Homo sapiens: one gene and its partners. The protein of the gene in region 6 purifies or fractionates together with the protein of the main gene of each other region. This does not show direct contact. Each region holds a gene or a part of one and is shown on either strand. Other genes may lie near its edges.

The links.
Region 1: the proteins of SLC24A3 (region 6) and TMED5 purify together in Homo sapiens (affinity purification with mass spectrometry; one large-scale study listed by BioGRID and IntAct). This does not show direct contact.
Region 2: the proteins of SLC24A3 (region 6) and UBXN8 purify together in Homo sapiens (affinity purification with mass spectrometry; one large-scale study listed by BioGRID and IntAct). This does not show direct contact.
Region 3: the proteins of SLC24A3 (region 6) and PGAP1 purify together in Homo sapiens (affinity purification with mass spectrometry; one large-scale study listed by BioGRID and IntAct). This does not show direct contact.
Region 4: the proteins of SLC24A3 (region 6) and DPY19L1 purify together in Homo sapiens (affinity purification with mass spectrometry; one large-scale study listed by BioGRID and IntAct). This does not show direct contact.
Region 5: the proteins of SLC24A3 (region 6) and FAR2 purify together in Homo sapiens (affinity purification with mass spectrometry; one large-scale study listed by BioGRID and IntAct). This does not show direct contact.
Region 7: the proteins of SLC24A3 (region 6) and SLC30A6 purify together in Homo sapiens (affinity purification with mass spectrometry; one large-scale study listed by BioGRID and IntAct). This does not show direct contact.

The regions. Positions count from the first base shown.
Region 1 is NC_000001.11:93,159,626-93,163,458, reverse strand, and holds part of TMED5 (transmembrane emp24 domain-containing protein 5 isoform 1 precursor), read left to right. Parts: intron 1-3,232; coding exon 3,233-3,330; intron 3,331-3,833. UniProt on the Homo sapiens protein: Potential role in vesicular protein trafficking, mainly in the early secretory pathway. Required for the maintenance of the Golgi apparatus; involved in protein exchange between Golgi stacks during assembly.
Region 2 is NC_000008.11:30,742,741-30,747,141, reverse strand, and holds the start of UBXN8 (UBX domain-containing protein 8), read right to left. Parts: upstream 2,979-4,401; 5' UTR 2,953-2,978; coding exon 2,865-2,952; intron 2,815-2,864; coding exon of another isoform or gene 2,682-2,814; intron 1-2,681. UniProt on the Homo sapiens protein: Involved in endoplasmic reticulum-associated degradation (ERAD) for misfolded lumenal proteins, possibly by tethering VCP to the endoplasmic reticulum membrane. May play a role in reproduction.
Region 3 is NC_000002.12:196,923,701-196,928,269, reverse strand, and holds the start of PGAP1 (GPI inositol-deacylase), read left to right. Parts: upstream 1-1,562; 5' UTR 1,563-1,653; coding exon 1,654-1,800; intron 1,801-4,569.
Region 4 is NC_000007.14:35,027,195-35,031,027, reverse strand, and holds part of DPY19L1 (protein C-mannosyl-transferase DPY19L1), read left to right. Parts: intron 1-3,833. UniProt on the Homo sapiens protein: C-mannosyltransferase that mediates the C-mannosylation tryptophan residues on target proteins.
Region 5 is NC_000012.12:29,327,082-29,330,914, reverse strand, and holds part of FAR2 (fatty acyl-CoA reductase 2), read right to left. Parts: intron 1-3,833. UniProt on the Homo sapiens protein: Catalyzes the reduction of saturated but not unsaturated C16 or C18 fatty acyl-CoA to fatty alcohols (FAls). A lower activity can be observed with shorter fatty acyl-CoA substrates.
Region 6 is NC_000020.11:19,719,524-19,723,641, forward strand, and holds the end of SLC24A3 (sodium/potassium/calcium exchanger 3 precursor), read left to right. Parts: intron 1-1,467; coding exon 1,468-1,617; 3' UTR 1,618-3,403; downstream 3,404-4,118. UniProt on the Homo sapiens protein: Calcium, potassium:sodium antiporter that transports 1 Ca(2+) and 1 K(+) in exchange for 4 Na(+).
Region 7 is NC_000002.12:32,207,062-32,210,894, forward strand, and holds part of SLC30A6 (zinc transporter 6), read left to right. Parts: intron 1-2,431; coding exon 2,432-2,500; intron 2,501-3,833. UniProt on the Homo sapiens protein: Has probably no intrinsic transporter activity but together with SLC30A5 forms a functional zinc ion:proton antiporter heterodimer, mediating zinc entry into the lumen of organelles along the secretory pathway.

The DNA of each region.
Region 1 (3,833 bases), on a different chromosome or scaffold from region 6:
GCGGGAGAATCATTTGAACCTGAGAGCCAGAGGTTACAGTGAGCTGAGATCGCGCCACTACACTCCAGCCTGGGCAACAAAGCGAGACTGTGTCTCAAAAAAAAAAAAAAAAGTATATTTTATGATTTTTTAATTAACCTTCCATAGTCTTAAAAATCATTTTTCACAATTTCATTAAGCCTGACAGCCACTACCAATAACTGCTTTTTAACTTTGTTTTACTGAAATCTTTTCTTAGCTTTGTTACATTGCTTGTTTTCTGATTTAATATATATATTTTTTGTTTTTGGAGGGTATCCTTGAGTAATTCTTTGAGAATGTTTTGAGTCCTTGGATATCTGAAAATAACTTTATTTATTTATTTTAAAATTTTATTTTAGAGATGGGTTTTCACTGTATTGCCCAGGCTGGAGTGCAGTGACTACTCACAGGCACTTTCATAGAACACTACAGGCTTTAACGCCTAGCCTCAAGTGGTCCTCCCACCTCAGTCTCCCAAGTAGCTGGGAATACCAGTGCATGCTACCACACCTGGCAAATGGCTTTATTTTTGCTTTCATGTCAGTAAATATCTTTTTACTTGGGAACATTGACTACATGGCTCCATTATTTTTTTCCATCTAATGTTATATGTAAGAATTCTGATGCTAATCCCAATTCTTGTATTTTGCAGTTCTCTACTACTTCTGCTACTTCTCTTTGATAGAAGATTGTACTTTTTAAATCCTTTGGAAAACTCCATATTTTATGGTCTTTTTTCATTTATCCTGCTTCACATTTATTAGATCCTTTCTGTCTGAAGATTTTCATCTTTTGAAACAGGAATTTTTCTTCTTTGTGGGTTTTTTGTTTTTGTTTGACGTGGAGTCTCACTCATTCTTTTGCCCAGGCTGAAGTACGGTGGCATGATCTCTGCTCACTGCAACCTCCGCCTCCTGGGTTCAAGCAGTTCTCCTGCCTCGGCTTCCCAAGTAGCTGGGATTACAGGTGTGTGCCACCATGGCTGGCTCATTTTTTTATTTTTAGTAGAGATGGGGTTTTGCCATGTTGGCCAGGCTGGTCTCAAACTCCTGACCTCAAGTGAACCACCCGCCTCGGCCTCCCAAAGTGCTGGGATTACAGGCATGAGCCACCGCACCCAGCCTATAGATTTTAATTGTTACATGTCTTCTTCATTTCATTGGGATTTAAAGAAGAAAATTATGTACATTTAGCCAGCCATTTGAAACCAGTTCTGTTGAACAATAAAAGCACAGGAGTAGGTAATTTTTTATATCATCACATTAAAACTACCATGAAAAATAAAATGGAGTGTTAAGAAAAAGAGTAGCCATTGAGTTAGGTTTTTTTTTTTTTCAGTTAAAAGGCTGTACTATATAGTGTTCCAAATAGATTCTTTTTAAAATTTTAGCAAACACTATAAATACAGAAGAGAAAACGCAGGGAAAGAGGAAGACAGGAAGAGAAGTTTGCAGACAGATCTACAGGGAAAACACTGAGACACTTTAATTTGTATAGGATGATAAAAAGATGCATTTATTAAATATTTGCATCTGTGACAAAAAATCAAAATATGGATAATAACATTGTTAGGACCAGTACCCTTGGAGTTATAAAAATAGTGAACAAAATTTTCATCCATCTTATCATCTATGTTGGATATGCCACATAGGTGTCCATAAAGGTACCTACAAGTTTATGCTAAGTGAATCCTACAAAAAGATGCTTAGATTCCAGAGAACGTCTCATAAGTGCCAAAGAGGATAGGTGTGCAATCTGTAGTAATACAAGAGAGAGTGTGAGAGAACTGGACAGGAGGATTCAGAGGAGATTTCAAAGGACTTGACCCATTTATGCAGGAGGTTGCAATTTTTTGAATTGCAAAATGAGACCTTGGCAATGACCTTGAGCAGTAGGATATAAATAACTCCTACATGCTTAGTGTTCCACTAATGGAACACAAGGCATAAATGGGTTAAACTGGCTCTTAAAGAATGAATACAATTGGATGAGTACCTATTCAGGAGAATGGAACAGAAATAGAGGCAACACAGCATACTTATTAAAAATTATTCTAGAGGCAGATTGCTGAGTTCAAATTTTGACCATGTCACTTATTTGCTGTATCACTTTGGTTTATTTTTTACTTATTTTTTTTAATGTGGCCTAGATGAATTAATGCTGTGTCACTTTGGAAAAATGATTTCTCTGTGCCTCAGTTTTTGTTGTTTTTTTACTAAAATGAGAATAATAGGACCTACCTTTTAGAGTTGTTATAAGGAATAAATTAATCCACATAAAGCATTTAAGACAATTTATGGCATCAACTATAATTGTTAGTTGCCATGATTATCATCATCATCTTCATAGAAGGACATTTTGGAATTACAAATGGATAGATTGTATTCATTGGCTAGTAAATGAACCGGCCTGCTTCGAATACACAATTCATACTGGGAAGTAGTAGAAGAATGTGTTGAAGTCAGTTGGAGTCCACACCATGGTGGTCTTGAATTCCAGGCTAAGAAACAGTTAATTATTATTCTTTTATTGAAGAGGAAACAAAAAAGTTATATACAATGTCTGAAATTGCCTAAGTCTTTTTTTGGGGGGGCAGGGGAGGCAGGGGGGGCGGGGTACCGAGTCTCACTGTCGCCCAGGCTGGAGTGCAGTGGCACAATCTCGGCTCACTGCAACGTCCACCTCCTGGGTTCAAGCGATTCTCCCGCCTCAGCCTCCTGAGTAGCTGGGATTTTTCTATTTTTAGTAGAGACAGGGTTACACCATGTTGGTCAGGCTGGTCTCGAACTCCTGACCTCATGATCCACCTGCCTCGGCCTCCCAAAGTGCTGGGATTACAGGCGTGAGCCACCGCGCCCTGCCAATTGCCTAAGTTTTAACTAAAACGCCCAGCATTTGAACTGCTCTTTGTGTTTCCGTCCATTCTACAGGGATTCTGAATGAAACCACTATTTTAGGAAGATTTATTTCAGTAATATCCATAAGGCCTAAATTTAGGTGATGGTGAGAGAAATGGGTAAGGAAGGGACAAGTTCCAAAAATGAATGGAATTGAACTAGATGATCTTTTGGTTCTTTTCTAGCTCAGACATCACTGATGACTTTCTTACCTCTCTAGCTTAGATAATCTTTACATCATATGATCTACTGTATATAATTTTTTATTTCCAGAATTTGTAATATATGTTTTTCTCATGTATGCTTTTCTACAGGTTTTAGATGGAGCAGGATTAGATATTGATTTCCATCTTGCCTCTCCAGAAGGCAAAACCTTAGTTTTTGAACAAAGAAAATCAGATGGAGTTCACACGTAAGTAATCTCTTTTAGTTGAGTTTCATTGCTGAATAATACCAGTGGGTTATCTGCAGGGCATGGAAAGTTAGCACATTTGATACTACATATCAATATTAGATAATTCCATATGATTTAAAACAGTTCATGATAGTGTGCCATCTGATAAACAAAAACATCTTCCATTAACCTTTCTATTTTTGTTTAAGCGTTTTCTTTTGATCCAGGCTAAATTTTTTCTGTGCTTTGGTTAGTAAATTAGTATTCCCCTGGTATTCCATTCAATCTATCGTGGCATTTTAAACCTGCCTTCTGGCCAGCACAAGCTTTCTATTTTAACTTAAAGCTACTGTTCCAGGTATATGTCTTAAAGTTTCTTGAGCTGCTGGCTATATGCCATTTTTGTCCATAGTTTTCTTTCTTAAAACAGGACAGTATATCTTTGTGTGTACGTAAATTTTTTTTTTTTATTCAGACCTCATTCGTTTTAGGTAATTAGAAGGCCTGAAAGTAAAAGATCT
Region 2 (4,401 bases), on a different chromosome or scaffold from region 6:
CACTCTGTTGCCAGGCTGGAGTGCAGTGGTGTGATCTCGGCTCACTGCAACCTCCACCTCCCGGGTTCCAGCGATTCTCCTGCCTCAGCCTCCCAAGAAGCTGGGACTACAGGCGTGCGCCACCATGCTCCGCTAATTTTCGTATTTTTAGTAGAGACAGCGTTTCACCATGTTGGCCAGGATGGTCTCGATTACTTGACCTCATGACTCGCCTGCCTCGGCCTCCCAGAGTGCTGGGATTTTTTTGTGTACTTAAACTATAGACCCCATAAGCAGTGTACTTCAACGTGAGGAACTGGCCTTAAAATATTTAGCTTAGTCAGGGCGCGGTGGCTCACGCCTGTAATCCCAGCACTTTGGGAGGCCGAGGCGGGTGGATCACAAGGTCAGGAGTTGGAGACCAACCTGGCACAACATACCGAAACCCCGCCTCTACTAAAAATACAAAAAAATTAGTCGGGCATGGTGGTGCATGCCTGTAGTCCCAGCTACTCAGGAGGCTAAGGCAGGAGAATCGCTGGAACCCAGAAGGCGGAAGTTGCAGTGAGCTGAGACTGCACCACTGCACTCCAGCCTGGGTGACAGAGTGAGACTCCGTCTCAAAAAAAAAAAAAAGAAAAAAAAAATCTAGCTTAAGTACAAGTAAAATGTATTGACAATAAAGGTTTTTACACAGTAGAAAAAGACAAGGCTAGTTTTTCAATATATGTCTGAATATCAGTATAGGCATAACCAGCCCTGCTGCTGGTATAAAGTATGATGTATAAAACAGACTTAAATACTGTTAAGAAATAATTATTGGAAGCTCACTATCAAGAATCCAAAGGTAGCAGAAAAAAAAAGGAAAAAATATATATTAAAAAAAGAAAACTGAAAAGAGGAAACAATCCAAAGGAAACAATCATTCGTTCAGAATTCTGAGAAAGAAGCTAATCCCATGAAAATTTCAAGAACTAGATAAAGATGCTGCCAGGAGCCCAGGTGCAATTTATAGAACCCTTGTCCCTAGTTCTATTAAACTAGACACTGGTAAGTGCTGGGAATACAAAAACAAATTCCATTTGGTCTCTGCCTTCAAGAAGCATATTTCTGGCTGGGCACGGTGGCTCACACCTATAATCCCAGCACTCTGGGTGGCCGAAGTGGGTGGATTGCTTGAGCCTAGGAGTTCCAGACCAGCCTGGGCAACATGGCAAAACCACATCTCTGCAAAAAAATACAAAAAATAAGCAAGGCATGGTGGTGTGGCCCCTGTATTCCTAGCTACTCAGAAGGCTGAGGTGGGAGGATCACTTGAGCCGGGAAGTCCAGGCTACAGTAAGCCATGACCGTGCCACTGCACTGCAGCCTGGGTGACTGAGCAAGACCTTGTCTCAAAAAATAATAAATGAGCAGAGTAGGGGTGGATGTTGAAAAGACAAGGGAACAGGTGAATTGCGGAAATGGTGAGTGTGAATTCAACATTTCTGATCCTTTGGATAAAGGTCTTGTTATATTCCAACACAGCTTGAGTGAGTGAGAAGCTTCAGGACAGTCTTTGTACATTTTTTTAAAGCATTTTATTTTCATTTCTTATTGCACGCAACATTTCTAGGCATCTGACTCCTTGTGAGCAGGGAGAAAATGTGGAGAAAGAGAGGGAGTACACAAAGCCAAGTTTCATTATGGTCTCTAACTTTAGAATTGACCTTAAAAAGGGAGACAGACATGTAAACTGATCACTGAAATGTCCAAAAATCAACTCATGATTCTCAGCATCTCCACAGTTTTTCTTTCCATTTCCCCTTTACCAGTAGCACTACCAAATACCTAGGTTTGCTCAGTCCCCCATGAGGCAGTCGTCCTTGAATCCTTCCTTTCCCTTGCCCCAAACATCAACCCATAAACAAAGCCTGTTGGTTGATCCTACTCCGTCAATATCCCAATTCTGTCTACATTTCATCTCCTGTTATTGTTCTAGTCCAGGCCATCATCACCACTTGTCAACTTCCAAAGCCTGATGTGCCTCACTGCTTCCACCATAGCTTCTGTCCAAAGCATTCTCCATACAGAATCGAGTGACCTTTTTAAAACTTAGGGAAGTCACTTAACCTCCCTAAATTTTAGTTCCCTCAACTGTAAAATGGGGATTATAATAGTGCCTACCCTCCTCTGATTGCAGTGCAGATTAAATGAGATAATAACCAGCACCTGGTGTTTGGCTTATAATAGGTGTTCAATAAACGTCATTATCCTGAGCCAATTCCTCCTCCTCCTCCTCCCAACTCTCCTTGATTCAGCCACAATGGCCTTCACCTTTTCCTCCAACGTGTCACAATCTTTTTGCCTAAAATATTCCTCCCCTCCCCCATCCCTTCCCTGCCCCCACTGGCTTTTCACGGGCGTGGCCCCTTATTTAAACCTAGGGCCGGGCGCAGTGGCGTAGGCCTGTAATCCCAGCACTTTGAGAGGCCGAGGCAGGAGGATCTCTTGAACCCAGGAGTTCGAGACCAGCCTGGGCAACATAGTGAGACCCTGTCTCTAAAAACAAAACAAAAAACTTCTCAGCCTAAATTCTCACAAGACCTTCATCTTATCAACCTGTTTATTTCCTTTTCAGTGTTCGCCAGGATGCGAAAGCACTGTCTATGATTGCCCCTGTGCTCTTTGCCTCTACCCTCTTACACGTAAAACCATCACACCTGGAGGGAAAAGGTTCCTCGAAGTGAAGTCAGCTCCGGAAGTGGGGGGGCAGGGGCGATGCAGTCTGGGAGTTGTAGTCAAAGCTGCTCCGAAGCCACGCAGCCGAAGAGGCGGTCGTTCTATGCAACATTCCTGTGAAAATTACCCAGCTGTGACTGTCGAAGGGAAAAAGTCACACTTACCTATATCCGGGATCCCACGCCGGAGCTCCAGACACACAAGGGGGACAGCAGAGAGGAAGAAAATGCCAACAACCCCACGTGAAGCCATGGTGGCGGAAGCGCCTGGTGCAGGCGGAAAGCCCGCCCCTTCCGGCCGCGTTTTCCGGGAAGGAAGTGGAACTCTTCTTGCCGCGGGCCGGCTGGGAGAGGGTCAATAACGTGGTAAATACTGACGGCCGTGTCGTTATTGAGGGGGAGCTAAGCCCCGTGTTTTAAAGTTATAGTCTGTAGCCGTGTTTCAGAAGAAAGGCAAGTCGTCCCCCAAGTCACATGATGTCCAGAGGAGCCTGGGCTCTAGAGCGGTGGCTCCCTGGAGGGTAGCAGGGCAGGGGCTGCCCCTTCGGTCTTTGCAGCGTCTGTGAGAAAGCGCTTTCCAGAGGGAAATGAAGCCGAAGAAAAAGCTGATGCTGTGAGGAGGCAGCCTGGGCCCCCCGGCCTTGTGGCCGTATAGGATGAATGTGGGCTATAACACCTTCCTTATCTCCCTAACGGTTCCTGGTTCCTGGCCCCGTCCGCAGTCTCTGGTTCCTGCGGAAAGACAACTCGAAAGTGGGGCCTGGCTCCAAATACCTGCCCCCTAACACGCACGTCCTAATGCCAGGTCCTGGAGACCCGCTACCCCTTGTTCCGCCCCTTTTCAGTTTTGCCTGCACGCGTTATTGTTAACCTTGACTTCATAGTTCCATGACCTCATTGCCGTCCTATAACTCACCACTGTGCACTTCTCCCAAGCTACTGAGGTCCTCCCAATCTACAACATTTCGTACTTGGAAATTATCTTTCCTGGCCAGGCGCGGTGGCTCACGCCTGTAATCTCAGCACTTTGGGAGGCCGAGGCGGGCGGATCACAAGGTCAGGAGTTCCAGACCAGCCTGGCAAATATGGTGAAACCCCGTCTCTACTAAAAATACAAAAATTAGCCGGGTGTGGTGGCGGTCGCCTGTAATTCCAGCTATTCGGGAGGCTGAGGCAGGAGAATTGCTTGAACCCGCATGCGGAGGTTGCTTTGAGCCGAGTTTGCACCACTGCACTCCAGCCTGGGCGACAGAATGAGACCCCGTCTCAAAAAAAAAAAAAAAAGAAAGAAAGAAATTATATTTCCTGGCTAAGCGCGGTGGCTCACGCCTGTAATCCCAACACTTTGCAAGAAAAAAGAAAATTCTTTTTCCTGACCCATCCATCTAGCATCCCACCTGACTATTCAGTTTAGTTCATCTGAAATTTATTGAGCTCCACAGTTTGGTACTCTACAACTCTTGGATATTCAAATATTTACAAGTTACTGAATTTGTCCTCAAGAAACTCAGCTTATCCGACTTTGTGGTTCTATGGAGAAGAAAAAAAAAAACTGGGAAAGATAGCCCTGTAAGCAAATAAACATAATGCAGTTCCTGAGTGCTATGATAGAGATATACACAGGGTGTTGCAGAACCATACCCAGAAGGCTTGCAAAAGGCTTTCCAAAAGGAAGTCACGCCTACGTTGTGTTCAAAGGTTA
Region 3 (4,569 bases), on a different chromosome or scaffold from region 6:
ATTACTTAATTGCCCTCCTGATCAGTACCACCTACAGCTCCCCTGTTATCCTGGTCTTTCCAGACTTATCTCCCTACAAAAAAGGAGACTGCTTCCGCATTTTCCCATTTCTGTCTTTCTCCGTCAATACTCCACATTCCGTAGCTAGCTGTGTTTGTTTAGACTTGCAACTGTTTCTGTGCAGGGTAAAGACTATCTTGATTTTCAGGATCACTCCACTTCTTCTTCATAGTTTCGTAATCTGAACATCAGGGTGTTGTACAAGATAAACTATAAGCTTCCTTTTGGTTTTAAAATTCTTTGATTTTATGTATTGTAGCCAAACTTCCTCTGCACAGAAAATATACCAGAAAATCAGCCCAAGTTCAATGAAATTCATTTAGTGCCAAAGACCATTCTAAGAATCCTGTGGTTACTACACACACACGCACACACACACCGTCTACTGTTGAGTCAGCTTTAAAGAGTGATGTCTTTTTCCTAACATTCTAGTGTTTTGAAGCTGCTACAAGTGATTGATTTCGAGCTTTTTTTAAAAACTCCTCCTTTGTACAAAACAGAACCGAAATTCTTCAAAACGAATTAAGTCATTTGCGAGTTTGAATGGAAGCTGGACGAAATTGCCTCCTCCAGTTAACGTGGAACCCATTCCCCAAGAGATGGAGGTTCTGGAGAGCAAGGCGAGTCAGCGTCAAACTGATTACGCAGATACCTGTTGGGGACGTCAGTGCTAATAGATATTTTGGTAACATATTTTAAGGACTAACGATGCTTTTTGTGATTCAGGCTTTCATCTGATACCAAGAGCAGAATCTCGTCGGCTTGCGGGTGTTTTTTTTTTTTTTTTTTTTTTTTTTTTTAATGAGCCGGTGCTTTTAAGCGCTGTTACCTACTGGGCCCAAGTAGGCGGTAGAAGAGGGAAAATAAAGCCATTTGTTCCCTCTTCAAGCTAACTGCTCCAGAGAGCTGTGAGTGTGCTCTACTACCGTTGGGAAAACCGAAATTGCGGAGGCCTGAGTCTTTTCAAAATTGAACGGGAAGCGTTTTTAAACTGCCGCAGGGAGAGGCGTTTGCGAGGTGACAGCTGATGACCCCTGGGCTTTTAAGTCCTCCTCCCCTCTCTCGGTCCGCTCTCGGTCCTTAATCGCCTCTGGACTCTGGGCTCTAGTCCCCTCCCCAGATTCACCCATCTGACACCCGCCTCCTGCCCAATCCCCCGGCTCGTCTCCAGGGCTCCCGCGCTCCGCCCATCCCCCTCTGGATGCTTCCTCTCTCTCTCTTCTTTCCCTCCCGCCAGCCACTCCTCGCGTCTTTCTCTCCCCACTTCCCTTCTTTCCCCTCACCCTCCAGCCCAGCCCACCCTGCTTTCTCCCTCTTTCTCTTTCCCGTAGATCCGCGCTCGCGCTGCAACACCTACTCCTCCCTCGGCTCTGGGAGTCGCCAGGCCAGAGGCGCCGCGGACCTGGTGCGCGCAGGCGCACTGCGCGGCTGGCGAACGGGCAGGCCGGGCATCAGCGCAGGCGCGCGCGGCTGGGGCTCGGCTCCGGGGGTGGCGGTCGGACAGTGTCTAGCACGCTCAGTCCGGGCTTGGGGCCCCGCGGCGGAGAAGGAGGTAGAGGGGGCGGCGGCGGCGGCGGCGGTGGTGGCGGCACCATGTTTCTTCACTCAGTTAATCTCTGGAACCTGGCGTTTTATGTCTTCATGGTCTTTCTGGCAACCCTGGGGCTGTGGGATGTCTTCTTCGGCTTCGAGGAGAATAAGTGCAGTATGAGCTACATGTTTGAGTACCCGGAGTATCAGGTAAGGTTCTGCCCTCTCCTCAGCCGGGCGCTCCAAGACTCTGGCCCCTGGTGCCTTTTTCCTTCTGTGGGTTCGTCCTGCCTTGGCTCTCTGCGCCTCTCGGGCCCCCTGTCCCGTCCTCGCCTCTGTTTTCTCCGCCCGGGGAGACTCTGCATCCCCCTTCTGCCCCCCTCACCTCCCCTTTGTGTCCCTTCTTCACGGTGGGGTGTTTGTTAGACGATTTCCCGAGAGCATCCTCGTGGTCGTCCTCGTAGTTACTCCGCTGTCCCTCCGCCTCCTCCCCAGCCCCAAATCCTGGGCACAAGCTCTTCTGACTGGCCGGGCCCAGCCCCCCTCATGCCCAGAGAGGCAGCCTCAACCCTTCTCCCTAAACCGAAGCTCCATCCCTCTCGCGTTCTTGCCTTAACCCGTGCCCCAGGACCTTCCTTTGCTTCCCACGCGCCTAAATTCCCCTCGCGCCCGGTGATCTGCTCGTCAGATTTCGCATTTCTAGAAAGGGACCGAGCGTCTGCAGAGTGTATATTGGCTAGATAGTTCCCAAGGCTGTTTTTAGAGACTCCAGGGTTTTGCCTATGGGTAAACTGGCGAGTCATTGAATTGGAAACTAGATCCCCTCTTGGAAAGATGTTGCAGATCCTCTTATTTTGCAGGTTAAGGGGCCGTGCGTGTGTGGGCTTGCCTGTGTGTGTGCATACCTGTGTTTATGCATGTCTCTCAGCAGCCGAGCCTCTTAATAGTTGCATACAAAATCTATTTCATGGTGCTATTTTTGTTTTCTCGCTGGGTTCGGAGTTTAAGAGAGAGCCAACCCTTCTCTCTCCACCCCTACCGCTTCCATGCCATTTTGAATGTTTTCAATCAATGGCTTCGTTAGTTCGGCATAGTAGGATCTAGAATTTCATTCATGACTAGCTGTAAAAAGAGGCGCAGACAAATTACACAACTGTCCTAAGAGAATTTTTCCGAATGATTCTTTTATTTCTAAGTGCATCTCTTAATTATGGACTACCTATTGTAATAATTCCCTACCATAAAATGTATATGCACTATAACATATATTGATAAAATACATTTTTAGTATACTCTTAAAATCACAGCAGTTTTTTTTTTAGGGTGAAGGATGCAAGTCCTGATTGCTTCTTTGTACAAGTCATTATGGAGGAAGCCTGTTACTTGATTACGCTGCTATTATTTTGATCTTAAGACTACTTAAGGTTTAAATTGCTGAAGAGCATTCTTTCCCATGGGAAAAATTCTAGTAAATTTAGATTTCATTTGTGTTTAGATCCTTACCTTGGTTTTGCATTTATGATGATAAGAGAGTGGAAACATTTGGTAGGGATGCTATCGAAGGAGAAGATTTTGACATGTTACTGTCGTCTCTGTTCATTTCTAAGCAAACCTTTTTAGTTTAGTATTTTAAAAAACTGAAAATAGAGCTATTATAATTCCCTCCTTATTTTTGGTTTAATAATTAGGAAACTCCCAATAGATTGAAGTAGGTCACTTTAGTTTTGTACCGCATTGAAGAGTTTGGTTAAAATCATTTTGTGACAGTACAGTACTAATTCCCATTTATTTTTAGATTTCCTACAATTATTGAAGCTATTTTAATATTCACAGAAGTAGAAATTGTTCTCTTTAGCGTTGGGAACAAAGCATATGGATCTCACAGACGCATTTCCTGCCTCATAAATTGACTGGAAAAACAGAAAATTAGTGTAGCTAATGGTAAAGAGCTCTTTGGGTTTTTATTGTTGTTGAGTAGTCTAGGTTTAGTTATTTTGGTTTAAGTTGCTTTTTTGGGGTTTTACACTTCTATTAATAATTTGCTAATACAGTAATAATCACAGTGGCAGAAGTTTTTGATTTTTAGCAGGTTTTTATGATGTAAAAAGCTGTGTTAATTCATGATAGTATTTATATTGTATTCTTAAGTCTTTTTGTTTTGCATACCAGGTCATGTTATCTTACAAATACAATTAAAACCAGCCTATAGAAATGAGTCATTTTGAACATAGTGAGATTTCTGGATAAATGAGGCCATTCTGTTGAGAACCAAATGGCTTTCATGAATAAAAATGTTTTAAAGATATTTTACATATTGCTTACTTTTAATTATATTTTATAGTCAGCTCTCTAATTGTTCACAGGTTGATACCCAGATGTGAGATGTCCTAGTCATTGGGTTTTCTTCTTTCTTTTGATGCCTTTCTTTTTTTTTACTGCTCATTTGCATCTTCTTTAGTTAGCCAGCAGAAATAGAAAGGTGGTTGAAACACATTCAGTTTTATTATCCATTTTTTTAAAAGATGGGGCATAAATTTGAAACTCTTTGCAAAAATGAAGTTTTGAATTTAAAATTGTTTGATTATCTCTATTCATCTTCTACCTCTGGTTTTCCCAGATTCACTTATTCAGAGTTAATTGAACATCTCACGAACCCATATCTCAAGCCTACTAGGCAAAATATACTTTATCCTTTAAAGCTTCTTGCCCTATTACGACAGCAAGGCAAAACTTTTATTTGGTAGCAAATGGTTTTAGGCAAATTGCAGAATTTTAGAAGAAACGTCTGAGTTGTTTCTCTCATACAGTGATTTGTCTGGCTATCTTCGTATGTGTAACCTAACGGTTGCTCTCTGAAAGGAAATGTTGGCGTGCGTCTATAGTCGCAGGTACTCAGGAGGCTGAGGCTGGAGAATCGCTTGAACCAGGGAGGCGGAGGTTGCAGTGAGCCAAGATTGTGCCATTTCACTCCAGGCGGGG
Region 4 (3,833 bases), on a different chromosome or scaffold from region 6:
TACTTCAGCCAAACCATTGAGACATTACTCTTCCAGGGGAAGAGGCTGCTAGTTTTATTTAGTTACTGTTAGAACTGTTTAGTTATAATGGTTACTAGTCATCAAAGCTAGTAAAAATTACGTCTATATCTGGGTCTAGATGTTGTTTAATCTCATAAAGGGCAGTTTCATTTCATAGGGAAGATCAGTTCTCCATGGAGGACCTTTCATAATTCAGTCAAGAATCACTGAATATAAATACATTTAAAAAGCAGAATAATTTATTTTCAGAATACATAAATCTACAACTATTGTAGCTTGATTTTGTGCTTTAATACTGCTTTCTATTTTCTCAGCATTCTCACTATTATTTTTTTCCTGAGAGCTCTTAATAGCTGTTTGTGTTTTTCTGGCATCTTTCTCCATATTTGTGGCTGATTGTCAGGTGTGTTTTTCAGCACGATCACTATCACATAAAGAATGTTTGGATGGCATTTTGTAATTTTAACTTTATTAAAGCAGCAATTGTTAACATAATAGCGTAGCTGTCACCAAGACCACTTACAGAAGTTCTAGTATGGTTTATTGTACTGATCATGAAAACGTGTGATTTTATCTACTAGTTTACAGTAGCACTAATTGTAAACACAGTTTATAAGTCACTTGACCAGTTACTTTTGAAAACTTGTTACCTAGACAAATTATTAGTTTAGGGAGATTGTTGTAATTGAGAAGAGCGAGGCTTTATTAATATTTTTAATACTAAAATTTGTCCAAAGTGCTACTACTCTGCCCTTTGGGCAAATACTTTTCCTATTTCCTAACAGTAATTACTACTTTTTATAATATAGCTTTTCAGTGTTGGAGTTGTCAACAGCAGAATCTTTTTCTGCGGGTTTTCATATTAATCATAAAGTTCTTATGTAATTGTTTTCCGCTAAGTTTAAAAAGTTGTTGTTGTTTTTTGAAAATGAGACCTTATTTCTCACTCTTTTCTCATCTTTCATATCCATGGGAATGTTATAAAAATGTAGAACTTAAAGGTTACCCTCTTAGAATTTTCTTGGTGAGAAAACTAAAATAGGGCCAGGTGAATGGCCCAATGTAATTATTGAGTTCAGCAGGTGAAGTTTGGGATTGAAGTTGAGTTCTCTTGTCTTTGTTAATTACATCCGTGTAAAATTGTAGGTTTCAGATCTAAAGTCTAAGGCATCTGTCAAAGGCACATTAGTGGGAAGTTGACCTCATGTGTCCCATGACCCTAGAGCTCTTTTGACAAGAGCTTTACTGGCTTCTGGTCATTTGGGGGAATCACTCTTTTATATCTTTATGGTCAACCTGTCAGTCTCTGGGGTTTTTTTATATGATTATTTTTGAAAACTATTTAATTGAATTTTTTTGTGTTGGTTGGCTTGGCAATGATATAACAACACAGTAAAATAGTAAAAAACTGTCACAGTTTTCTTAGTCACTTAAAAGATAAGCAAGATTTGTGATACCCAGGGGAAGCTTGCAATTTGAGGGGAATGCATATCTTACCATTGGAATGGGTTATCAGTTAATGAACTTGTTAAATCTCTTGCTGAATATGATGGGGCCTGGACGTGTGTTGTAGGTGTGTGTGGTTCTCTTTTTACTCTAGTGGAGAGATGCAGATTCTACACTTTTTCCATTAGGTTTACTAAAGTTTTACAGCTTCCCTATGCATGCTCAGAAGCAGATCATATTATCTTGGTTGTGTATCTTATCTAGCCATTTGTTCTTAAAACAATAAAATGCACTTTTTTAATAAGAAGAAAGTTACTTTATGAAAATTACTAATGTAGATTACTGTTTGATTTTGAAATGTTTGCGTCAAAGTCATTCGAATCAGAGCAAATCCATTTCGAATGGAGGCTGAGTAAAATAAGGCTGAGACCTACCAGGCTGCATTACCAGAAGGTTAGGCATCCTAAGTCACAGGATAAGATGGGAGGTCAGCAAAAGGTACAGGTCACAAAGACCCTGCTGATAAAACAGCATGCGGTAAAGAAGCCAGCCAAAACCCACTGAAACCAAGATGGCGATGAAAGTGACCTCTGTCATCCTCACTGCTCATTATACACTAACTGTAATACATTAGCATGCTAAAAGACATATCCACCAGTGCCATGACAGTTTACAAATGCCATGGCAATGTCAGGAAGTTAGGCTATATGGTCTAAAAAGGGGAGGAACCCTCAGTTCCAGGAATTGTCCCCCCCTTTTCCAGAAAACTCATGAATAATCCACCCCTTGTTTAGCATATAATCAAAAAATAACCATAAGTATGAGAATACTATAAGTATCCTTAGTCCAGCAGCCCAAACTGTTCTACCTATGGAGTAGCCATTCTTTATTCCTTTACTGAATGAACTTGCTTTGGACTCGCCCGGAATTCTTTCTTTTGCAAGATCTAAGAACTCTGTCTTGTAGTCTGGATCAGGACCGTTTTCTGGTAACATTTGTATTCATATTATGTGAGGATAAGACTTTTAAGGGAAATTAGAATTTATTGTCTTCAAAACACTTACGTTGAGTAGTTGTATTAAGTATTGCCTAATTTAATATCTGTACATATATACATATTTAAAATATGTGAACATTTACTTAGTGTATTTCTCTGTTTAGAAGCCTAATTATATTCCGCTTTGGGATGGTGATATATACTTTCCATGCTCTCCTGTTTTCATATACTGTATTCACTTTAAAATAAATCGTTTTGTCCTTGATGCTCTTGTGATTTCTAAGGCATTTCCTCCTGTGTGCTAGTGCATCCTCTTCGTTGAATGTGCTTAACATCTTCGAGCCTGAGCTTGGAGTCAGAGAAACCCAGCTCTCCTCCAGGCCTTGCTGTATCCCAGTCATGTGCCCCTGAGCCTCATGGGAAAATAAGACCCATATCTGCCTCAAAGGCACCCCTAGATCATTTTTGCTTAATATGTGAAAGGGCTCTCTAAACTGCAACTGACAAACAGATGTTAGACATTTTCATTGTAATTAAGTTTTCTAATTTTTTCTTAACTGTTGGAAAGCACAGTTTTGCTTAATGCAAAATATATGGAGGAGATTCTGATTAACTAAAGTTGTGCTTAAAACCATCATCATGTAGACCACTGATTTCTAGATCTTACTAGGGGCAGTAGTTTCTTCAGATCATGACTGAATTTTATTTTTATTTATTTATTTTTTGAGACGGAGTTTTGCTCTTGTTGCCCAGGCTGGAGTGCAATGGCGCAATTTTGGCTCACTGCAACCTCTGCCTCCCAAGTTCAAGCGATTCTCCTGCCTCAGCCTCCCAAGTGTCTGGGATTACAGACATGTGCCACCATGCCCAACTAATTTTTTTTTTTTTTTTTTTTAGTAGAGACGGGGTTTTGCCATGTTGGCCGGGGATGGTTTCGAACCCCTGACCTCAGGTGATCCACCCGCCTCGGCCTCCCAAAGTGCTGGGATTACAGGCGTGAGCCATGGAGCCCGGCCTTCATGACTGAATTTTAAAAGCAATCTTGCTTCTCACTTTGAAACTCAATATCTCTATTAATAGAGTACATTCCTTCTTTTCCAATTCAAAATAGATTTCTTTCCCTATTCAAAATAGAAAACAAATTAAAACTGCCAAACCTACCAAGGCTTTGTAGTTCGGGGAGCAGGAAAATCAAAATGAAAACAAAATTCTCAGAAAATAGCTGTGCAGTCCACCTGGGAGAGTACAAAGCCCAGCGTGTTAGTGATAACAGCTGTAGGTAGCTACTCAAGGTCGTTAAGTGCTAGGGATGGAGACAACCAAAGAGAAAACCCTCTTTTTTTTTTCTTTTTTTTCTTTGAGACGGAGT
Region 5 (3,833 bases), on a different chromosome or scaffold from region 6:
TCTGTATATAAGCTTTACATGAATATGACCAAAGTAAACTCTTAGTTTCCTTTTTTCAGACAATCAGTCTTTGATCGAGGCTTAGATGGTACCAAATAAAAGGCATATATTATCAAAACCAAAAAGCCAATCACCACTAAAGGTCAAGTTTGTTAACTTTAAAATGGCTACACGATTTTCTGAGAATCTCTTGGGTTTAATTCATAAATTGCATCTTTCCTCCAGAGTCTATATTTAGCTCTTTTTCTCTTCAGGAAATATTACACTTCTAAAGAATGTAATTGAATTTGACATCTTAAAGATTTAGTAGTTCTCTAAGGCTACTCGATTCTTTCTCCTTTATATGCAAATTAAATGTTATATTTTAATCACAGAAAACCATCTTAGAACTCGGAGGAAAGTAACTAAATATTATTATCCCTATTTAACATTCTAGGCATTCAGTAAACATTTAATAATGAGCCCTTTGCTGATTCATTGTGCATATTGCTTTTGCTTTATCCTCTCAACTTGCATGGAGAAACATGACAAGAAATAACTTTTTAAAAATCATAAATGGGCCAGGCGTGGTGGCTCATGCCTGTAATCTCAACACTTTGGGAGGTCGAGGCGGGCAGATCACCTGAGGTCAGGAGTTCAAGACCCGCCTGACCAATATCGTGATACCCCGTCTGTACTAAAAATACAAAAATTAGCCAGGCGTCGTGGCATGCGCCTGTAGTCGCAGCTACTTGGGAGGTTGAGACAGGAGACGCGCTTGAACCCGGGAGGCGGAGGTTGCAGTGAGCCAAGATCTTGCCACTGCACTCCAGCCTGGGCAACAGAGCAAGACATGGTCTCAAAAAAAAAAAAAAAAAAGTCATAAATGTATTTGCTTTAGATAACTTTTTCTAATTCATTCTTCCTTTTGAACAACGAGTCCTATGAAACTATATTTTCCTTTTCACTTTACTACCAGAAAGCTCAAGAACAAATTCACTGCTTAAATTAACTACAGCAACTTAGTAGGATCTTGTAGATTATGTATGGGCATTCTCTTTTTAAATTTTTAGCTGTGACTTCATATTCTGATTCATATTTTCCTTGGTTTTGCATTTTATTTTATTTCTATTTTGTTCTTTCATTATATGTATTTTTTTGCAAGATACCTCAAACCTTTGTGAGATTTGGAGTATTAATAAAGAGAGCAGATGCGATTGTTCCAGAGAGCTTCAAAGACTTGTCCAAAAGCTGAATTGCTTTTTGAAAGAAATTCCATTATCACTTTGATTGGATATGGTTTTCATAGTATCATTAATATTGCTTAGTCATTCATATAAGCAGAGGCTTTTATTTTTATAGTGTTTAACATTTCTAAGTTTGATTTCAAAGTGGCCCTGTTCAGAATCCTGATTCCATATGGCAATTCAAACTGAATTTTGAGCCACACCAGAATTTGGTAATTACATTTAGTACTATTACTTTTGCTAAGATATTTTTGAGAGCATATGTTAAATCCACTGAAGCTTTGATTCTTTTTCATAAAATTTTGAAAGGTTAAAATAGTAAAATGTCAGAAATGAAACCAAGCTCATTACCTTTTGAGTTATTTCGGCAGGAAAATTCCATGGAGAAAATACATAAGGATAAGCCTACATAGAGTTTAAAGCTAAATTTTAAAAGAACTTACAATAGCTTGAATTTGTTGATTTGTTTTTGATTTATAAACTGGCTTAATCATCATTTCAAACACTAGTTTGAAGAATTTTGTCTATATGTGATATGTAAACATTTCTGAATAACTATTTCATGTCACTTTGAGAGGGAGCAATGATTTCAGATAAAATATCCCTCTAAATCTTGCCTTTTGTGCCTAATATAATATTTATTGTATTTGACATGGATAATGCTTAGGAAATAATTCTAGGGCTTGGATTTGAATCACACTCAGTAAGTTTGGTATGTAGAAGTGAAACCCTTAGCTGGCAAGCAAGGTCAGTTAGCCATCTGATATATTGTTTTTTTTTCTTTTTTTTAATTATTATTATATTTTAAGTTTTAGGATACGTGTGCATAACGTGCAGGCTTGTTACATATGTATACATGTGCCATGTTGGTGTGCTGCACGCATTAACTCGTCATTTAGCATTACGTATATCTCCTAATGCTATCCCTCCCCCCTCCCCCCACTCCACAACAGGCCCCGGTGTGTGATGTTCCCCTTCCTGTGTCCATGTGTTCTCATTGTTCAATTCCCACCTATGAGTGAGAACATGCGGTGTTTGGTTTTTTGTCCTTGCGATAGTTTGCTGAGAATGATGGTTTCCAGCTTCATCCATGTCCCTACAAAGGACATGAACTCATTTTTTATGGTTGCATAGTATTCCATGGTGTATATGTGCCACATTTTCTTTATCCAGTCCATCATTGTTGGACATTTGGGTTGGTTCCAAGTCTTTGCCATTGTGACTAGTGCCACAATAAACATATGTCTTTATAGCAGCATGATTTATAATCCTTTGGGTATATACCCAGTAATGGGATGGCTGGGTCAAATGGTATTTCTAGCTCTAGATCCCTGAGGAATCGCCACACCAACTTCCACAATGGTTGAACTAGTTTACAGTCCCACCAACAGTGTAAAAGTGTTCCTATTTCTCCACATCCTCTCCAGCATCTGTTGTTTCCTGACTTTTTAATGATTGCCATTCTAACTGGTGTGAGATGGTATCTCATTGTGGTTTTGATTTGCATTTCTCTGATGGCCAGTGATGATGAGCATTTTTTCATGTGTTTTTTGGCTGCATAAATGTCTTCTTTTGAGAAGTGTCTGTTCATATCCTTAGCCCACTTTTTGATGGGGTTGTTTGTTTTTTTCTTGTAAATTTGTTTGAGTTCATTGTAGATTCTGGATATTAGCCCTTTGTCAGATGAGTAGGTTGCAAAAATTTTCTCCCATTCTGTAGGTTGCCTGTTTACTCTGATGGTGGTTTCTTTTGCTGTGCAGAAGCTCTTTAGTTTAATTAGATCCCATTTGTCAATTTTGGCTTTTGTTGCCATTGCTTTTGGTGTTTTAGACATGAAGTCCTTCCCCATGCCTGTGTCCTGAATGGTATTGCCTAGGTTTTCTTCTAGGGTTTTTATGGTTTTAGGTCTAACGTGTAAGTCTTTAATCCATCTTGAATTGATTTTTGTATAAGGTGTAAGGAAGGGATCCAGTTTCAGCTTTCTCCATATGGCTAGCCAGTTTTCCCAGCACCATTTATTAAATAGGGAATCCTTTCCCCATTTCTTGTTTTTGTCAGGTTTGTCAAAGATCAGATAGTTGTAGATATGCAGCATTGTTTCTGAGGGCTCTGTTCTGTTCCATTGGTCTCTATCTCTGTTTTGGTGCCAGTACCATGCTGTTTTGGTTACTGTAGCCTTGTAGTATAGTTTGAAGTCAGGTAGCCTGATGCCTCCAGTTTTGTTCTTTTGGTTTAGGATTGACTTGGCAATGCGGGCTCTTTTTTGGTTCCATATGAACTTTAAAGTAGTTTTTTCCAATTCTGTGAAGAAAGTCTTTGGTAGCTTGATGGGGATGGCATTGAATCTATAAATTACCTTGGGCAGTATGGCCATTTTCACGATATTGATTCTTCCTACCCATGAGCATGGAATGTTCTTCCATTTGTTTGTATCTTCTTTTATTTCATTGAGCAGTGGTTTGTAGTTTTCCTTGAAGAGGTCCTTCATATCCCTTGTAAGTTGGATTCCTAGGTATTTTATTCTCTTTGTAGCAATTATGAATGGGTGTTTACTCATGATTTGGCTCTCCATTTGTCTGTCATTGGTGTATAGGTATACTTGTGATT
Region 6 (4,118 bases):
TGGGGATAAGTGAGGACGGGGAAGTGAGTGTCGGAGATTGGAAGAAAGGGGAGAGGTGTGAAGTAGCCGTCTGGGGAAGGGAGAGACAAGGGACTAGGGAAGGATGAGATGCCTGCTGAAAAGCATGAATGACCCACTTAATGTCAGTGGTCTCTAATTTAAAATAAGACCCATCCGCATGGCTGACCGATTTCCTCCAACCCTGATGGACAGCTGCGTGGATGCAGCATGAACCAGATTGGGACTTGGCTTGAACTGAAGGGCTATGGCTTAGCCAAGCAAGGACAACCAAGCAAGAGAGAGGCCAGGGAATCAGGGTGGATGCCCCGGAGTGACTCCAGCGAGTGTGGGTGGAATTGAATCAGAGGAAGGAGAGAAGGAAACGGGCAAAGTGGGTGAAGCCTAGAGAAGTGGTGATGGTATCAATGAGGTGTGGGCTATGGGCATTTGCAGAGTTGTGGGAGCTGGGGAATCAGGCGGAGTAAGCTAGAAAGGAAGAGATTTGAGTCAGAAAGTGGGATGAGTGACACTAAGATAAGACAGATGCTTCTGTCACTGCCAATAGCAACATCTAGGCCCCAGTGCCACCCAGCAGACCTTTCTGCAGTGAAATGGCCTACACCTGGGCTGGACAGTACCACTGGCTATGGTTGGCTGTAGCACTTGAAATGTGGAGCTGTGTTTTAATTTTATTTCATTTAAATTTGGGTAGCACATAGGCTGGTGGGTGTGAGTGGCTGAGGCCAGATGAAGGATGAGGACTTGATGGGGCAGGGTGTTGGAAAGACCCTCTCCCCTCTGGAGGCATTGAAATCACAGAGAAAGTCAGCAGGAGTGCAGTGGAGAGTGGCAAGAGCCGGGCGGAAAGCTTCAAGGATAGGCAGTGGCCGGGGTTACATCGTTGGCTGCAACAGGCAGAACCAAGAGGAACTGTGGGAAGAACCGAGATTCCAGGCTCAGTGTTTTTAGGGAGGAGAGAAGGAAAATGGTCTGGAAGCAGCCATGATTTGCTGTGGGGAGGGAGGAACTTCTCACCTCCAGACGCAGCCGTAGGAAGAGATGCAGCCGCCACCGCCTGAGGACTGAGGGGTCAGTGTCCCCAGGGGAGTGGGGGCCTGCTTAAAGCAAGATGGGGAAGGCCCAGAACAGATGAAGGGCCCACAGGGGTGTGGAGTTGGAGCTTCGTGAAAGAGGGTTGGCTGCTGGGATGTGCTTGTGAGTCCTGCCATTTGTTTTAGTTATTTTTCTACAACCAGCAGCTTCTGGCTTCCTTTCTTCCTGATGTTGATGTTCTCACCTCCCACAATCTGAGACGAGAGGTGGATTTTGCAGGCTCAGAGAGGATCAGCACCCTGCCCGAGGCCCATAGTCAGCAGCCCTTCCCCGGGTCCCCTGGGTTCCCCTACCAACCCCCCAAAGGCTGCTGCCTCCTCCTGGTGCCCTCTGAACCTGTTCTGTGCCCTGCAGGTGTTCGGCGTCCACCTGAACAAGTGGCAGCTGGACAAGAAGCTGGGCTGTGGGTGCCTCCTCCTGTATGGTGTGTTCCTGTGCTTCTCCATCATGACTGAGTTCAACGTGTTCACCTTTGTGAACCTGCCCATGTGCGGGGACCACTGAGCCGCCGGGTGCCCACAGAGGCTCAGCTCCTTCTTTTCTGTGCAATACGAGACCCGGCCGCACCCCGAGTCACACAGGCCCCCGGGGCCACGGCGTTCGTCTCTCCTGTGCTGTCCTCAGGCCTCCGCTCCTGTTTTGGTGGCCCAGGCTCTCCCCTGACCCATCCTCGCTCCCCCACCTCCTTGGGTCATGCCCACCCACCCTTTCCTGCCTCCTCCGTGTGAAGACATCCAACATCCACGTGACTTTTCCAGCTCCATTTTTGAACAGTGACTGAGATTCTAGAAAAACTGGCTGCTAACTGGCCTGAGCCAGGCAACACTGATTCCAATCCCTCCTCCTTTTTTAAGTTATTTGATGGAAGACTCACCTAATTTGTGACCTGAGACTGTTGAAGAAATAGAGAGGAGGGGGCCCGTTGATTACAGAGAGCATTTGGGATTTTGTTTGGTTTGGAGATGATGCCTAGGTTACTGGGTTTGGGGGGATTGTTTTCTTTTGGGGGCCTTCCCCTTTTACTCCTTTTCTTCCAGAGATCAAGAGCTTCTCTTGCATCTTCTTCCACTGGGCTCTGGATTAATCAATTACCCAAAGGCTGCACCTGCCGTGTTGTCTGGGCTTGCATCCCAGATGTGTTGGAGTATGCATGGATGTAGTGCTTTTTAGAGGAGCCACTGGGCAAGGCCACCAAGAACAAATGCATGACATTTTATAGCCAAGGACGCCTCGCTAAAGTCTTATGGGCGTCCCCTGGGGTTGGGGGGGCACAAGGTTTTGGAGGAAGAAGACAACTTCCCTCATTCCATCATCACCATCTCTTTCTCACTAGGTTCTTTCTAGTTTTCAAGCAATAGTTCTAGCCTGCCTTGGACAAGGGGGCCCCAGTTAAACAAACTACCCATCCATGAGCTGCCAGGCAGTCAAAAACAGAAGCTTCCCCGACTTGTGAGTCCCTGAGATGTGCTCTTGTTGTTTGGCATTTGGGGTGACAGGGAGTGACCCAGAGGCCACCACTGCTTTTCATGCAGGAGTTACAGACACTGGTTTCTTGGAAAATGGAGAGAAGCGCACTTTGCACAGACGTCGTCAATTAAGTCCCAATTTGCCACTTGGTATTGAGTACACTGGACCCTGACCACTGGCTCTTGGGCAAACGTCCTTCCTCACGGGGCGCCTCCGCCAAGCCGGCCCAGCTGCACCCCTCCCTTCCTGGAGGGATGGCCAGGGAAGGAGAAAACAGAGAACTGACACCTTTGAAACCACAGAATGTGTTACATGCAGACTCGCTCAAGGGCATAAGTTATTGTGAACGTTTTTGCCAATCACTGCTCAACAGCCCTGCTAGATTTTGTATGATGCTGAATTATTATGCAGACTAATTCCACCCAGTTGAGACACACCATGCTTGTTCACTTGTATTTATTGAAACTGTGGATTCTTGCCCGTGCTGTCCCTTGTATTTACTTTAAGCACTGATCACTTATCATTCATTCGGTATGGTTTTCCCTGTCCCTTGTACACATTCTGGTATGAATTTGTAAAAATAACCTGCTACAAATTGGTTGAATGTTTCTGTCTGTGGTGCGAACCAGCATTAACGGATGGGGCACGTGCCCAACTGAGGAACAGGAGAAGAAATCACCAATTTGGGCTCTCAGAGCTAAGACACACTTATTGATTCTGTTGCACATTTTGCACTGGTTTATGGCGATTGTTTTCTTGGACGGATAGTGTAAAATAAACTTCTCTGTTCTCTATCCTTCCCAGAGCAGAGTGCATTACTTTCTCCCCTGGAAAGCTGTGCATTTTTCATTGAGGAGAATGTATGGGAGGTAAAATGATTGTAGTCACTATGTGGCCAGGCATTTGCCACCTGCTGTTTCTGCGTTGCCTCACCTGGAAAGCTGGCGTACGTGTGGCAGATTACGAGAATGAAGTGGCCAGCTGTGGGTCCCCTCTAAATCTTGAAGGGACTTTAGGCCTATCATCCTGTCACAGAATTCCAGAACTCTACCCGTCCTAGAATACATTAGTTAAGAATTCATTCTTTCCATTGAACATGAGAGAAGGAGCATCACAGTACTGATGATGACATTCTGGAGTGGCCAAGTTCTCCATTCTGTCTGATTTTAGTAGTTCTTAATCGTGAAAATTAAGATTTCCCCAAAGCTGATTCCTTAAAAGTGACAATAACATAGTTGTAATAAGCCATGATCTGATTCTAGGTGATGCTCAAGAAATAACTACCCACATCTAAATTAGTAAACACAGAGAGCTAGGCTTCCACCAGAAATGCAGCATAATTCATTTATAAGAGGCAGAAGAAAAATAGCCACTAATCCACAGCACCAACTTTATTTAACTGTTGAAAAATATATATTCCCAAGGTGGGAGGAATACTAGATACTTAGCATGTTTTGAGTGTTTCCATCTTCAAATGTTTTATTACTATATTTGTATATTTTACAAATATACCCTGGACACAGGGCAGGGTATTTTCA
Region 7 (3,833 bases), on a different chromosome or scaffold from region 6:
ATACTAGGAGCCATAATATAGTGGCAAACGTGGAAAAATATGAGGAATTGTTCAATTTGGAAATCAAATTCACTTGAAGTGAATGTGGAAGGTAATGGCCTAATGACCACCCTATTATAAATGCTATGATTTTTATTTATTTTATTTAGTTATTTAGTTATTTTTTTTTTGAGACAGTCTTGCTCTGTTGCCAGGCTGTAGTGCAGTGGCGCAATCTCAGCTCACTGCAACCTCCACCTCCCAGGCTCAAGCAATTCTCCTTCCTCGGCCTCCTGAGTAGGTGAGACTACAGGCGCGTGCCACCATGCCCAGCTAACTTTTTCTTTTTTTTTTGAGACAGAGTCTTGCTCTGTCGCCCAGGCTGGAGTGCAATGGTGCCGTCTTGGCTCACTGCAACCTCCGTCTCCCAGGTTCAAGTGATTCTCCTGCCTCAGCCTCCTGAGTAGCCGGGACTACAGATGCAAGCCACCATACCCAGCTAATTTTTGTATTTTTAGTGGAGACAGGGTTTCGCTGTGTTGGCCAGGCTGGTCTTGAACTCCTGACCTTGTGATCCACCCGCCTCGGCCTCCCAAAGTGCTGGGATTACAGGCATGTCCACAGCGCCTGGCCCGCCCAACTAACTTCTGTATTTTTTTTTTTTTTTTTTTTTTTTCTGAGATGGAGTCTCGCTCTGTCGCCCAGGCTGGAGTGCAGTGGCACAATCTCGGCTCACTGCAACCTCCGCCTCCTGAGTTCAAGTGATTCTTCTGCCTCAGCCTCCCAAGCAGCTGGGATTATAGGCGCCCACCACATGCCTGGCTAATTTTTGTATTTTTAGTAGAGACAGGGTTTCACCATCTCGACCAGGCTGGTCTTGAACTCCTGACCTCGTGATCCACCCACCTCGACCTCCCAAAGTGCTGGGGTTACAGGCATGAGCCACCAGGCCCGGCCTAACTTTTGTATTTTTAGTAGAGACGGGGTTTCACCATGTTGGCCAAGATGGTCTCAATCTCTTGACCTCGTGATCCACCCGCCTCGGCCTCCCAAAGTGCTGGGATTATAGGTGTGAGCCACCGTGCCCAGCCTGTTTTTTGTTTTTTTTGAGACTGAGTCTTGCTCTATCACCCAGGCTGGGGTGCAGTGGCATGATCTTGGTTCACTGCAACCTCCGCCTCCTGAGTTCAAGCGATTCTCCTGCTTCAACCTCCTGAGTAGCTGGGATTACAGGCTCCCACCACCATGCCTGGCTAATTTTTGTATTTTTAGTAGAGACGAGGTTTCACCATGTTGGCCAGGCTGGTCTCGAACTCCTGACCTCAAATGATCCGCCCCTTGTGACCTCCCAAAATGCTGGGATTACAGGCATGAGCCACTGTGCCCAGCCTTTTGTTGTTTTTTTAAAATATATATATAAAAAGAGATGGGGTCTTGCTATGTTGACCAGGCTGGTCTTGAACTCCTGCTCTCAAGCCATCCTCCCATCTTGGCCTTCCAAAGTGCTGGGATTACAGGCATGAGCCACTGTGCCCGGTCAAATGCTGTGATTTTTTTTTTTTTTCCAGGGGGTACAGGGTCTTACTCTGCCACCCAGTCTGGAGTGCAGTGCCGTGTTCTCTGCTTCCCACCGGCTAATTGTTGTACTTTTTTAGTAGAGACAGGGTTTCGCCATGTTGGCCTGGCTGGACTCGAACTCCTGGCCTCAAGTGATCTGCCTACCTCAGCCTCCCAAAGTACTGGAATTGCAGACATGAGCCACCATGCCCAGCCTAGACTTTCTTTTAAGTTGTTACAAATTTCCACCTACTAACTAATGAAGAAATAAAATAATGAACTATTTTGATGTTGAAACTATTTTAAACCTTTGATTGTCAGTGTGACAGAGGCCACTTTTACCAGTATAACTGGCTACTACTCTCAACTAGTGAAGCCTGGCCTTGAGTATGTGTCCTGTGCAACTGTACCAGTGGGCTACACACTATATATCTGGCCTTGGAATTTCTTCTAGACTCACATCCAAACAACATCCTGTGTTGTGCAGAGATTTGTTATAAGGGATTTCAGAGAAAGAAGTGATTGAGAAAACAAAAAAATTAAGTAAAAAATCTGATACCACAAAGTGCTAGATATAAATATATTCCATATTGATATGAAAAGAACCATACACTGTTGAAGAAATTGGTTGGGGTAGGGGTTTAAAACTGAGCAGTGGGGACCTGATTCTAAAAGAATTGGGGCAAGCAAGAAACGAGGAAAGCAAGGTCTTGGGTCAGTATGGAACAAACAGGAATGGTATCTTGAGTGGTCTGAGACTTCTCTTAGCTAATGAGTGTCCTTGTGCAGGATTTGGCTGTCATTCTTAAGTTTAAACTAAGTCCATAATGTGACTAAACTGCATTGGATATGTTAAGTACAGACAACTCTGATCACCTCTTTCTGTTTTTGGTAGGTATCTACCTTAGATGGAGTTTTAGAAGTCCGAAATGAACATTTTTGGACCCTAGGTTTTGGCTCATTGGTATGTTCTTTTACATATGACTTTAGTTATAATTTAAAATATAGTCTTCCATTTTTAAAACTGAAAAAAAATATTTCCTTAAAATTTTTATAGAGCCTTTGATTCCTAGTTATGTTAAGCAGAGTCTAAAATGTACATGAATTCAATTACCTAATTGAGGGATTTTTTGGTGTTTAGAGACAGGGTCTCACTCTGTTGCCCAGGCTGGTGTTGAACTCCTGGCCTCAAGCAGTCCTCCCGCCTTAATCTCCCAAACAATAGAGGAATGTTTTTATTTTTTTTCCATCAAACATGTTAATGATAATAATACAGGAGTGTCCAGATAAGACAAATTTGTAGTCAGTGTAATTTCCAAATAAGAAAATGTTAAAAAAAATTAAAAGTGCAATTGCTTTCTTTTTTAACTGTAGTTCTCATTTTGGAGAGTTTGCTGAATATTTTGAAGAACTACAGTAACACAACTTGCTTCAGCATAAAATTTCGTATTTTCTAATTCAGTTTGAACCTCAATACCAGAGAGACTTTATTATGACACGGTTTTACTCGTACGTTAGGAATGATGAGGAAAATACAGAAAATGTAAAGCACTATAATCTTATCATCTAAAGAAAACTGCTGTTGATATTTTGGTGTTTATACATTTATTTTCCTTAGAAAATGAGATCACGGGCTGGGCGTGGTAGCTCACGCCTGTAATACCAGCACTTTGGGAAGCCGAGGCGGGCAGATCACCTGAGGTTGAGAGTTTGAGACCAACTTGGCTAACATGGTGAAACCCCATCTCTGCTAAAAATACAAAATTAGCTGGGCGTGGGGTGTGGCACACGCCTGTAATTCCAGTTACTCGGGAGGCTGAGGCAGGAGAATCTCTTGAACCCGGGAGGCAGAGGTTGCAGTGAGCCGAGATCACGCCATTGCACTCTAGCCTGGGTGACAGAGTGAGACTCTGTCTCCAAAAAAAAAAAAAAAAAAAAAAACAACAGAAAATGAGATCATGCTGTTTTATAATTAGCTCTTTTTGTTTAATTAATTTATCATGAACAGTTTTCTATGTCATTAAATACTCTTCTACAGTATCATTAAAAAAAACAGATAGGGTTTGATTTTTCTAATATAACACAAATTTTATAGATAAACAGATCAAAGCTGGTCTAGCAGTTCAATGATATTACCCACTTTGCAGTCTTTAGTTTCAGGCTATGCTTTTGTAGTGGGAAAATGGTTGCTTCACCTCCACCTTCCCCAACTCTTTCCCTCTCTCATTATTTTGGATGTCTAAAACTTATTACAAGAAAAACTTGAGACTGTAACATCCCCTCCCTCCTTACTGGGA